Linked DNA regions of Homo sapiens: region 2 is linked to region 1. Evidence: fine-mapped expression QTL. A gene starts in region 1. The other region holds a variant in brackets. All regions are shown on one strand. Distances are between the middles of the regions.

Evidence for each region. PIP is the estimated chance that this variant, and not a neighbour inherited with it, causes the effect.
Region 2: its variant is the best candidate, but not a certain one, in a credible set for the expression of IREB2 in thyroid (GTEx, PIP 0.67).

Annotation. Positions count from the first base shown.
Region 1 is chr15:78,435,247-78,440,632 of GRCh38, reverse strand. It overlaps IREB2 (iron responsive element binding protein 2), which reads right to left and starts at 2,417. Exons shown (of 22, transcript NM_004136.4): 1 at 2,277-2,417; 2 at 752-838. The coding sequence starts at 2,295. RefSeq lists a silencer at 1,963-2,202 and enhancers at 2,673-2,732, 2,803-2,882.
Region 2 is chr15:78,471,121-78,476,506 of GRCh38, reverse strand. It overlaps IREB2 (iron responsive element binding protein 2), which reads right to left. Exons shown (of 22, transcript NM_004136.4): 7 at 4,583-4,766; 8 at 3,126-3,265; 9 at 148-319. Among named protein-coding and RNA genes, the nearest start is that of HYKK, 34 kb to the left of the region's middle. The variant T/A (reference allele first, on the strand shown) is at 2,641.

The sequences.
Region 1 (5,386 bases):
TACTTTGTGAGGCTGAGGCAGATGCATCACTTAAGGTCAGGAGTCTGAGACTAGTCTGGGCAACACAGCAAGACCCCAACTCTACAAAAAATATAAAAATATGTTTTTATATAAATGTGTTGGCATACACCTGTAGGCCTTGTTACTTGGGAGGCAGAGGCAGGACTGCTTTAGCCCAGGAGTTCAAGGCTGTATGAGCTATGATCACAACACTGTGCTCTAGCCTGGGCAACAGAGCAAGACTCTGTCTCAAAAAAAAAAAGAAAAGAAAAGAGAAAATAAAATATACATTTAATTGGTGTAGAATTATCATCAGTCAGTCAGGTTCTTCTAAAAATCACATTAGGCCAGGCGCAGTAGCTTACATGTGTAATCCCAAAACTTGGGGAGGCAGAGGTGGGAGGATTATTTGGGCCCAGGGGTTCAAAACTAGCCTGGGTAACATAGCAAGACCCCTGTCTTCACAAAAACAAGAAAAAAAAAAGTTTGAAAACTGCATTATTGGTTTCTTTGAGGGGAAAAACTAGTGCTTAATTAACTTAGATTTTTAAATGAGAAGTTAAGGTGTGGGCCTACATCTTCCCTGAACAGAAGTTGTCCCAGGAGGAGTTTTTAAAATGGTATAGGTATGTGTAGGTGTACCTGTTACAATACGGTGGAAATACATTTAAAATTTCTTCAGCTCAGCTTGACAAATGCATTTTCATTATTAGAGACTAAACAAACCCAAGAAAATGTAAAGCAACATTACCATACTTGGTGCCAAGTTTAGATACATCGAAGAACTTCTTATGTGAACTGTCATTTAATGTTTCAATAAGGTACTCAAAGGCGTATCCTGAAAAAAAAATTGTATTTTCATTAAATGCAGCAACAAAATATTTTATTCAGCTGAAAATACCTGGAAACTAGCTTTATCCAATAGAATTTTCTGCAATGGTAAAAATATTCTATGTTTGAGCTGTCCAGTAAAGTAGCCATTAGCAACGTGTGGCTATTGAGCACCTGAAATGTGGCTATCGTGCCTGAGGAACTGAATTTTTAATTTATTTAATTTTGATTAATTTAAAGTCACACAGGGCTAGTATCCACCACACTGGAAAGCATAGTTCTAAACCATAATTTGTCAAGTAAAAACTAGTAAGATAATTCACTCCTGAAATGTGATAAGAATACCTGGAAAGGGACAATAAGAATGATTTAAATAATCCACGGGGACGTTTTGGAAAGACATGTCTTGAAAACTGCAGAGACAGGAATTTGTGAATTCCACAATTAACATTAGAGGGACTGATTAAAAAAAAAAACTAAAAGACGGATTTTTACAGAGCATTCAATAAACCAAAACAAAAAAACTTCTCAGTTAAGTCCTTACCAGGGCTTAGTACTGAAAATAAAAGTAACAGAATCTCTAGGAAATTAGCATATTCTACCCGAAAGAGACAAGTCTTCTGGTTTTGCACGAACTGAAGCTGAACTACTAAGTCAAAGATCCAGAGGTCTCATTTAAACGTGCCTCAGCTCCCAACATTCTAGGGGGCAGTGGCGGGGAGGCAGCCCTGAGGTTGAAAAGAACCTTCAGATCTTTTGTGCAGACTCATAGCGGTGGGTGGCCAGGACCCTCAACATTGTTAAGGCTTTCATCCAAAAGGAGAAAACATAAGCACAGCCCATTTTCAGAATGAATAGTATTTTTTTCTCTTTTTTTTTTTTTGTAGAGGGAGGTGGACGGGGGAGGAGACAGCGGTGCAATAAATGGTCGGAGAACTGACTGACCAATGTTCAACCTTGACTGCCCCTCATTCGGCTTCCAGAGGCACAGAGAGACTGAGGGGCCTTAGGCTGGACCGTGGAATCAACATCTAGCTGCGTGAGACCCGAACACGGAGACGCAGGCCCCCGCCTTCATCGCTCGCCAATGGGGGGCGGGCAGGAGAAGACGGTGGGCCTCTCCCTGCCCCTGGTGTTGCTGACGGGGGCCAGGAAGCCGCTGGCAGCAGGCAGCGGCCACCGGAGAGAGAGGGGTGCGGGTCAAGGCCAGCGGTGGGGTGGCCCGCCCTGCGGGTGTCGCGCAGGAGGGTGGGGATCGGGAGCCCCAGCTTCCGCGGCCTAGGCTCAAAGGGCGGCCCAGCAGGCAGGCCCCGAGGGGAGCACAACCCGAGCCCCGAGGGCCTGGGCGCCTGCCGAGCGACTCCAGGCGAGAAAAGCAAGGAATTCGGCGCCTAGGCAGCGCGCGTTTCCAACTGCCAGACCCAGCTCGGAGGCCCGAAACTGACCTGCTTTTGGGGCGTCCATCGCCGGAGACCATATTATCCCTCCGGGGAGGGGGCCAGCGGGGGAAGAAGGGGGAGGCCGGGCAGGGAAGACGGGGAGGAAGACAGGCGGACTGGCAAGGGAGGAAAGAAGGAAGCAGGCTCGCGCAAATATCGCGAGAGCAGCAGAGCCAGCCCCGGGTCTGCGCTCGCGGGATTTGTCGCCTAACTCCCGCGAGATCGTCGGACAGGAAAACAAAGAAAGGGAAGGGGCGGAGCTAACCAGAAAGCGATTTCTCGCGCCGTCGCCGCTGTTCTCGCGAGCGGGGGCGGAGCGCTGGGGAGGCTCCAGTGGGGGCGTTGGCGTGGCTAGTTTGGCCTTCGCAGCGATCCGTTACTTAGTTGCGGCCTTAAGTTTTCTATTGGGGTCATGAATTCGAGCGGTGTTTGCGTTCCCGCAAGGTGTCTGTTGGAGTCAGGGTCGGAATCGGAACTGCTAGGAGAAAGAGCTCAAGGAGAACCGCTTTCCCCTAACTATAAAGCCTTGCATTAACTTGTCAGACGTGGGCGGCCCACACGCGTGTTTTCAAGTGGGGGCGGCCATACTGATCGGGCGCGTGGGAGGCGCTCAACTGTTGAATGAATGAATTTTTTCTTACCCTCCGGTAGCTTCCGTGATTGCCGACTTCTTCCCAGTGGCAGTTAACACATGCTTAAGCCTCTCCATCCTTCCGCCTCAGCTCCTCCGGTCCCTGTGTTCTCCACCTACCCAGCATTATCTCCTGTCGCAGCAACTTACCAGAAAGAGTCGCTCATACTCGGCTCTCCCCCACCCACTTCTTATCCTCTTCCAGTCTGGCTTCCACTCCCAGAAATGCCTTTAGCCAAGGCCAGCTATAACTCCACTTTCTAATCTCACATATCTCAATCTTGACTGGTTCTCTCCCATTGTTGAAAAATACTCTTCCATCAGCTTCTGTGACTTCAGACTCTACTTTTGTTTCTTCTCCTAAGGGTGCTTGATCTCAGGCTCCTCTGCAGACCTCTTCCTCCGCCCAGCTTTTAAATGTACTGGGCACTTGATGGGCACAGTAGCTCATGCCTGTAATTCCAGCACTTTAGGAGGCCAAAGTGGGAGGATGGCTTGAGCTGAAAAGTTCAAGACCAAACACAGCAACGTAGTGAGACCCTATCTCTACAAAAAAAATTTAAAAATTAGCTGAGTGTGGTGGCATGCACCTGTAGTCTCAGCTACTCAGGAGGCTGAGGTGGGAGGATCACTTGGGCCCAGGAGATTGAGGCTGTGGTGAGCCATGATTGCACCACTGCACTCCAGCCTGAGCAACACAGCAAGACCCTGTCTCAAAAAAAAATATATTGGACATTAAATGTGTCCCAGGGCTCTGGCCTTGTACCTCCTCCCTCTGTCCATTTTCCCTGGCCCATCTCACACTTCCTTTGACTTCAGTTATTAGTTAATATGTTGATGCTTCCCAGTCTGCCTGTGACCTGAGCCTATCTCCTAAACCCGGAGGTGTATATCCTAGTACCCATGGGATGCCTCCACATCCCAAGGCACCTCAAACTAAAAATCTCCAAAACTGAACTCGTCATTTCCCTCCTTAAACCTACTATTCCTTTTGTATTGCCTGTATTAGCGAATGGCGCCACCATCCACCTGGTTGCCCAAGCCAGAAATCAACACATTATACCTGACTCCTTCATCCACTCCCTTTAATCATTGATCCAAGCCCTGTCAACCCAAACTCCAATATATTTCCTTTATTCACCTTGCTATATTTTGTAACATCTCCTTTACAATCCCAGCATGAAATTCATAGGTAATATAATCTACATACACGATAAATAATCTACTTAATGACCTAACTGTAATATAAAGGAGAAAAATAGGAAAGTAATTTATTAGAAAATAATATGTATTATAATACGTAGCTGCACAGGCATGTCTATATTAGATGACAAAATTGAGTAGTCAGATGCTTGTATCTATTTATAACGAATGAGTTTGGTTTTACAGGACATATAATATTCGACTGGGCCAGGCACAGTTGGTAGCTCAAGCTTGTAATCCCAGCACTTTGGGAAGCCAAAGCTGCAGGATCGCTTGATGCTAGGAGTTTGAGACTAGCCTGGGCAACATGGTGAGACCCTGTCTCTACAAAAACTTAAAGAGTTAGCCAGACATAGTGGTGCATGCCTGTAGTACCAGCTACCGTGAGACAGAGGCAGGAGGATCACTTGAGCCCAGAAATTCAAGATTACAGTGAGCTATGATTGTGCCACTGCACTCCAACCTGGGAGACAGAATGAAACCCTGTCTCAAAAAAAGATAAGGCCGGGGCGGTGGCTCACGCCTGTAATCCCAGCACTTCGGGAGGCTGAGGCGGGCGGATCACGAGGTCAGGAGATGGGAGATCATCCTGGCTAACACGGTGAAACCCCGTCTCTACTAAAAGTACAAAAAATTACCCGGGCGTGGTGGCAGGCGCCTGTAGCCCCAGCTACTCGGGAGGCTGAGGCAGGAGAATGGCGTGAACCCAGGAGGCGGAGCTTGCAGTGAGCCGAGATTTCACCACTGAACTCCAGCCTGGGCAACAATGCAAGACTTCGTCTCAAAAAAAAAAAGATAATATTCAGCTGAATATGGTCAACACTTTTTATGTCTGACATTGCAAAATAAGGATTCAATATATACATACATATCATGCATAAATATATATTATGAATGCATATATGGTAAATGCACATATGTATAAAATGTACATATATATCATGAATGGCCTCTAAAGACTAATGAAAATATGTTAGTGACTTAAATATTGGAAGTGTTGTCACTATTGTGATTTTCTGAAATGGTGAATAACTCTTGATAAAGTTCAAAACAAAAAAAAAAAACCTTTGCTTTTTTTATGCAATAGTTGTATTCCTAGAAAATTCCGTATATATTAAAACCATACACAAATTACTTTTGTTTTTACTTGTATATGGGGTTAAACTCTAGGCTCAGATAATTATAAACAAATTTGTTGTTACTGTTTTTATGTTTGTGTGTATGTTTAATGTACTTGAATATCTGACAGTATGGGTCTTGTTTGATTCTTTTTTTTTTTGAG
Region 2 (5,386 bases), 36 kb before region 1:
CATCTGATGTTTGCTTGAAAGTTGTTGTTTCAACATAATGTAATTTTGTGAATAGTAAATAACATGGATAAGGTAGTAATTTATAAAATATTATCAAACACATTGGAAATGTAACATGTTTATTCTAGTGATCTTTTATCTTCTTACCTGTATGTTCTAAATGTTTTAATGTCACATTGTCAACAGGGAAAAAGCTGAGGATAGCACCATATTCCGGACACATGTTTGCTATTGTAGTTCGATCAACTATAGATAATTGTGAAACTCCACTTCCAAAAAACTCAACAAACTTTCCAGCCACTCCTACTTGCCTGAGGTGCTATATAAGGAATACACAGAAACACATACAAAATTGCAAAGATAAGATTAGCAACGATTGTCTGAAAACTATAAAATAAAATTTTTAACCAATACTAGTGATGGTGAAGGAATGAGATCCTTCATTGTCCTTATGAATCAACTCATTCTGGTTTTGGGGGTATTTTAAGATAAGAAGTAAAGAGAAGACTGGTCCAATGTCACTGTTAATCAGGGTAGAAAGGGGCCTGAAAGCTCAAGGTGGCTATAATTAACATTTTCATGTCTTTGAAATCAGGGTACCTCAACTCAATAGTGTGTCTGTTTAGGTGGCAGCCCTTTTTCTTTCTTTCTTTTAGAAACAGGGTCTCACTCTGTTGCCCAGGCTGGAGCGCAGTGGTGTGGTCACAGCTCACTGCAGCTTCCAACACCGTGGCTCTAGCAATCCTCCCACCTTAGCCTCCAGAGTAGCTGGAACTACAGGCATGTGCCACCGCACCCAGCTAATTTTTAACTTTTTTTTTTTTGTAGAGACAGGGTCTTACAATGTTGACCAGGTTGGTCTTGAACTTCTGGCCTCAAGTGATGCTCCTGCCTTGGCGTCCCACAGGTGTGAGCCACTGCACACAGCCCTTTATTCTTTCTTAGCAGTGCATAAAACAGTGGTGTTTGCTAACCACTGATGGCATCTTAGACTTAATGAAATACTAATAGACTGATGAAACTGTATATTTAAATAAAAAATTATATATTGGCTATAAACATTTTTCAAATTATAACTACTGGCCCAAATGTTTACAGCATCTTTAATCACAGGCAAATCCCACTTTGGTAGAATTTGTTAACATGTGGTTTCAAACTTAATTCCTTCTAAAATTATTTTTCTTGGTTATTATACTATCAAGTAACCCAACCAGTTATTTGTCTTTTCTAAATTGTAAAATGGTCTCAGATTGGTATAGGAAGAGTGACTAAGGAGGCGACTAAGAATGAAACTATCCTCGATCTATGAATAATATTAAGCCCTAACATTTTATAAGTGCCAGGGATCACTTAATCCAAACCCTTTTTTATAGATACAGAAACTCAAACCCTAAGTGTAAAGATGTTTCCTCATTTATGGTTTTTTTTTTTTTTTTTTTTTTTTTGAGACAGAGTCTCGCTCTGTCGCCCAGGCCGGACTGCGGACTGCAGTGGCGCAATCTCGGCTCACTGCAAGCTCCGCCTCCCGGGTTCACGCCATTCTCCTGCCTCAGCCTCCCGAGAAGCTGGGACTACAGGCGCCCGCCACCGCGCCCGGCTAATTTTTTGTATTTTTAGTAGAGACGGGGTTTCACCTTGTTAGCCAGGATGGTCTCGATCTCCTGACCTCATGATCCACCCGCCTCGGCCTCCCAAAGTGCTGGGATTACAGGCGTGAGCCACCGCGCCCGGCCTATGGTTTTATTTTTTAGGATGAAAGAAACACAGATTAGATATTACAAACCAAATGCTGCTCTCATCAAAAAAACAATACAGGATTATTCCTATAAGGATCACAAATGGAACAGGATCTCAAAAAAGAAGTAATAATATATTCAATAAATGTAAACATATATAATAGATTAATTTTTTAACATTAAACTAAAATGTCAAAAAACACACAGTAATATTGTCAGGAAAAAACAGCTAGAGAAGGCTAAAAAGCAGCGTTAGTTTTCAGGATGTCTAAAGTAAAGAATTGATTTCTGTAAAAACATAATGGGATACTCCTTTTCCTCTAGGAATAATCCTGCAATTCCCAATTTACTACTTGATCTTTTGGTATCATACGTTGAATCAATAATTTCTCTAAGATGCCAAATTCTTTTCTAATTAGGGAAGAAGGATCAATACCAAATGCTGAGAGGGAGGCATTATCATTTCCTTACACTGGAGTATCCGGAAAGCCTTCGTACCAATAATCTAACCAAAAATGCTGAGATTGGGACTCAAATTGGAATTATATGTGGAACATTTTCCAGGTACATTCATTTAACAAAATAGGATTTAATCATTAAAATAAAGTTAGCAAAGGCCAGACATTTAGGAAGAAGAGTTACAAATTATTGTTCACTAGGAAATCCGTGAGCCTGTGTATTAATATGCTTAACAAGCTCAGTGTATGTATTGAAGTTCTGAAGCCAGTATTTTAAAAATTCAGAGAGAAGATTTTTACATAATAATCCAGAGAAATGTTAAAACGGCAACAGAAAAATGATATATCACATTTCTACAGTCCATGTTTTTGAAAGCATTACTTAGTAGAGCAACAGTTTCTAATGGGCAAATAATTTAATTAAAGACGACACAATCAACTTTTGC[T/A]AAACATTTTTTTTAAATTCAAGTAAAAAAGAGAAAAAAAATAATGTAGTCAGCAAGTGTTTATTAAGGCAACAAGGCACTAATAAGGCATAATGGTTAAGACAATGGACTCAAGAATCTGACTGCCTGGAATCTTTGCTCTACCCCTTACTACTCAGGCCTTCGACCCTTTGGTAAGTCACTAAACCCTACTGTACCTTAGTTTTCTCAGAGTTACAATGAGAATAGTAATAGTATCCATCTCACAGGCTTGTTATAAGGACTAAATGAGCTAACATAAGTGAACACAACAAATTTCTTTGTATTTATTAGTACAAACTAAATGCTCTGTTTGTTGTTATTACTATGATAACTATGATGATGTGGCTAACGTCAAGAGACCTGAGGATGCAGTAATGAACCCAAATCCCTGCTCTCATAGAGCTCTTCAATTTTTATAAAAATAATGTTCAGTAAGTCATAGAGCTACCACAACTTTAACTTACCTTTGTAATACCAAGAACAACATCTATGGATGTAACAAAAGGGTTTGATGACCCAGTTAACTCACATCCAACCACCTCTGGTAAAGTAAGAGAAACTGGCAGACCAAGCATAACTGCTTCTGTTTCAATGCCTCCAACCCCTAACGTAATAAAGACAGGTATATTAGCACAGTATATTTAAAGATCATTTATCTCTGTAACATCTGAATCTCTAGGTGTTTCATGAGCTTATCTTACACAGTACTTTGCAGAGTTGCTATATTGCTATTAATGTGGACACTGAACCCAAGGCTTCCCAAAAGAAATGATTCCACTCGCACGGTCGAAAAACTATTATTTTACCTTTATATTCAAGGTAAAATATTAGTTTTAAGTATATTCAAGTTAAAACATTAGTTTAAGTATTCATTATGTTAGGCACTGCACTGTATTCAAGATACAGATATAAACAGAATCCAGTCCCTGCCAACCTCAACAAGTTCAGTCTAATGAAAAAGCACAAAAAAATCAACATTTATAACACCCTGTGAAAGAGTAAGCTTACAAAGTGAGGTACACTGAACTCAGCAAGGGAGTTAAGACTTTCAGAAGATAACTGAGGCCAGTCTTGGATGAGTTAATAGTAGCCACATTTCAACAAAGTCACGGTCGGCAGAAAGCATTCTTCCAGAAGAAATAGCCTATGCAAAGTCATGGCATATAAAAGAGCATAGCTAGCTGGGCTCAGTGGCTCACGCCTGTAATCCCAGCACTTTGGGAGGTCGAGGTGGGTGGATCACTTAAGGCTAGGAATTCAAAACCAGCCAGGCCAGCATAGCAAAACCGTATCTCTACTAAAAATACAAAAATTAGCTGGGCGTGGTGGCACGTGCCTGTAGTCCCAGCTACTTGGGAGGTTGAGGCACAAGAATTGCTTGAACCCAGGAGGTGGAGGCTGCAGTGAGCCAAGATTGTGCCACTGCACTCCAACCTGGGTGACAGAGCAAGATGCTGTCTCCAAAAAAAAAAGAAAAAGAAAAAAAAAAGAAAAGAGACAGCCCACGTAAGTAAAGAAATGACTAGTCTCTCTAAGATGGGTGTGGGTGAGTGGCTAAAGGGACATGCCTTGTATAAAATGGCAAGAAATCTGGACTTATAAAGAAGACCAGGAGAAGCCACAAAAGTACCTTACACAAAGAAGCAAACTTTGTAGACGTATCATCATCATCATTCAATTATTCAATTACTTCACAAATAGTAGTGCTGTGCTAGACACTGTGTAAATTTCTTCTCATAAATCCTCTTTTACAACACTGATCACAAACTCTCAATTAGGATTTTGTTGTTGCTGCTGTTATTACAGATGAAAAACACAGAGCCTCAAAGAGGCTATACAAACTCAATAATTTATGTTCTTTTACAATGTTCTTGACATCCTTACCCCAAAAGAAATGAAATATATTTAGTCATTTACTTACCCCACCCCAGAATCCCTAAACCATTCACCATCGTTATGTGTGAATCTGTGCCGACTACACTGTCTGGGAAGAGGAGGTCTTTTTCTTCAAAAACCACTCTTGACAAATATTCTAAGTTTATTTGATGAGCCATTCCAGTTCCAGGAGGGATCACTGCCACATTCTTAAAAACTCTTGAACTCCACTATATTTTGTTTAAATTTAAGAAATACAAATGTTAGTATATAAATTTGTGCTCACAATCAAGGTGTAATATTAACATTAAAAATATTTTAACTAATGTTCAATATGGTAAATACAAAGTTCATATCACATAGTTAAAAACAAATATACAGATACTGAACCTAAATGTATTTTTTATTAAGACAAAATTAATTTAGGTCAAATAAAAATGTTCAAAAAGTCCAGACAAATGGCAGTATTCAACTGCGTTCCAAAGATTCTCAGGAATGAGAAGGAAGAAAGGCTCAATGTACAAGGCCCTCCCTCCAAGCTCTCTCTCCTAAACTAGAGCCACTGTTTTCATCTTTCTCTACACAATAGGGTTTCCAATTAAGATTTCATTTGAGGAACAAAAGCGTTCTACTACTATAAAACCTTTAGAAACTACTAAAGTGGCTGGGCAGAGTGGCTCATGTCTGTGATCGCAGCACTTTGGGAGGCCAAGGCAGGCAGATGGCTTGAGGCCAAGAGCTCGAGACCAGCCTGGCCAACATGGCAAAACCCCGTCTCTACTAAAAATACAAAAATAGCCAGGCAGTGGTGCACATCTGTAATCCCAGCTACTCAGGAGGCTGAGGCACA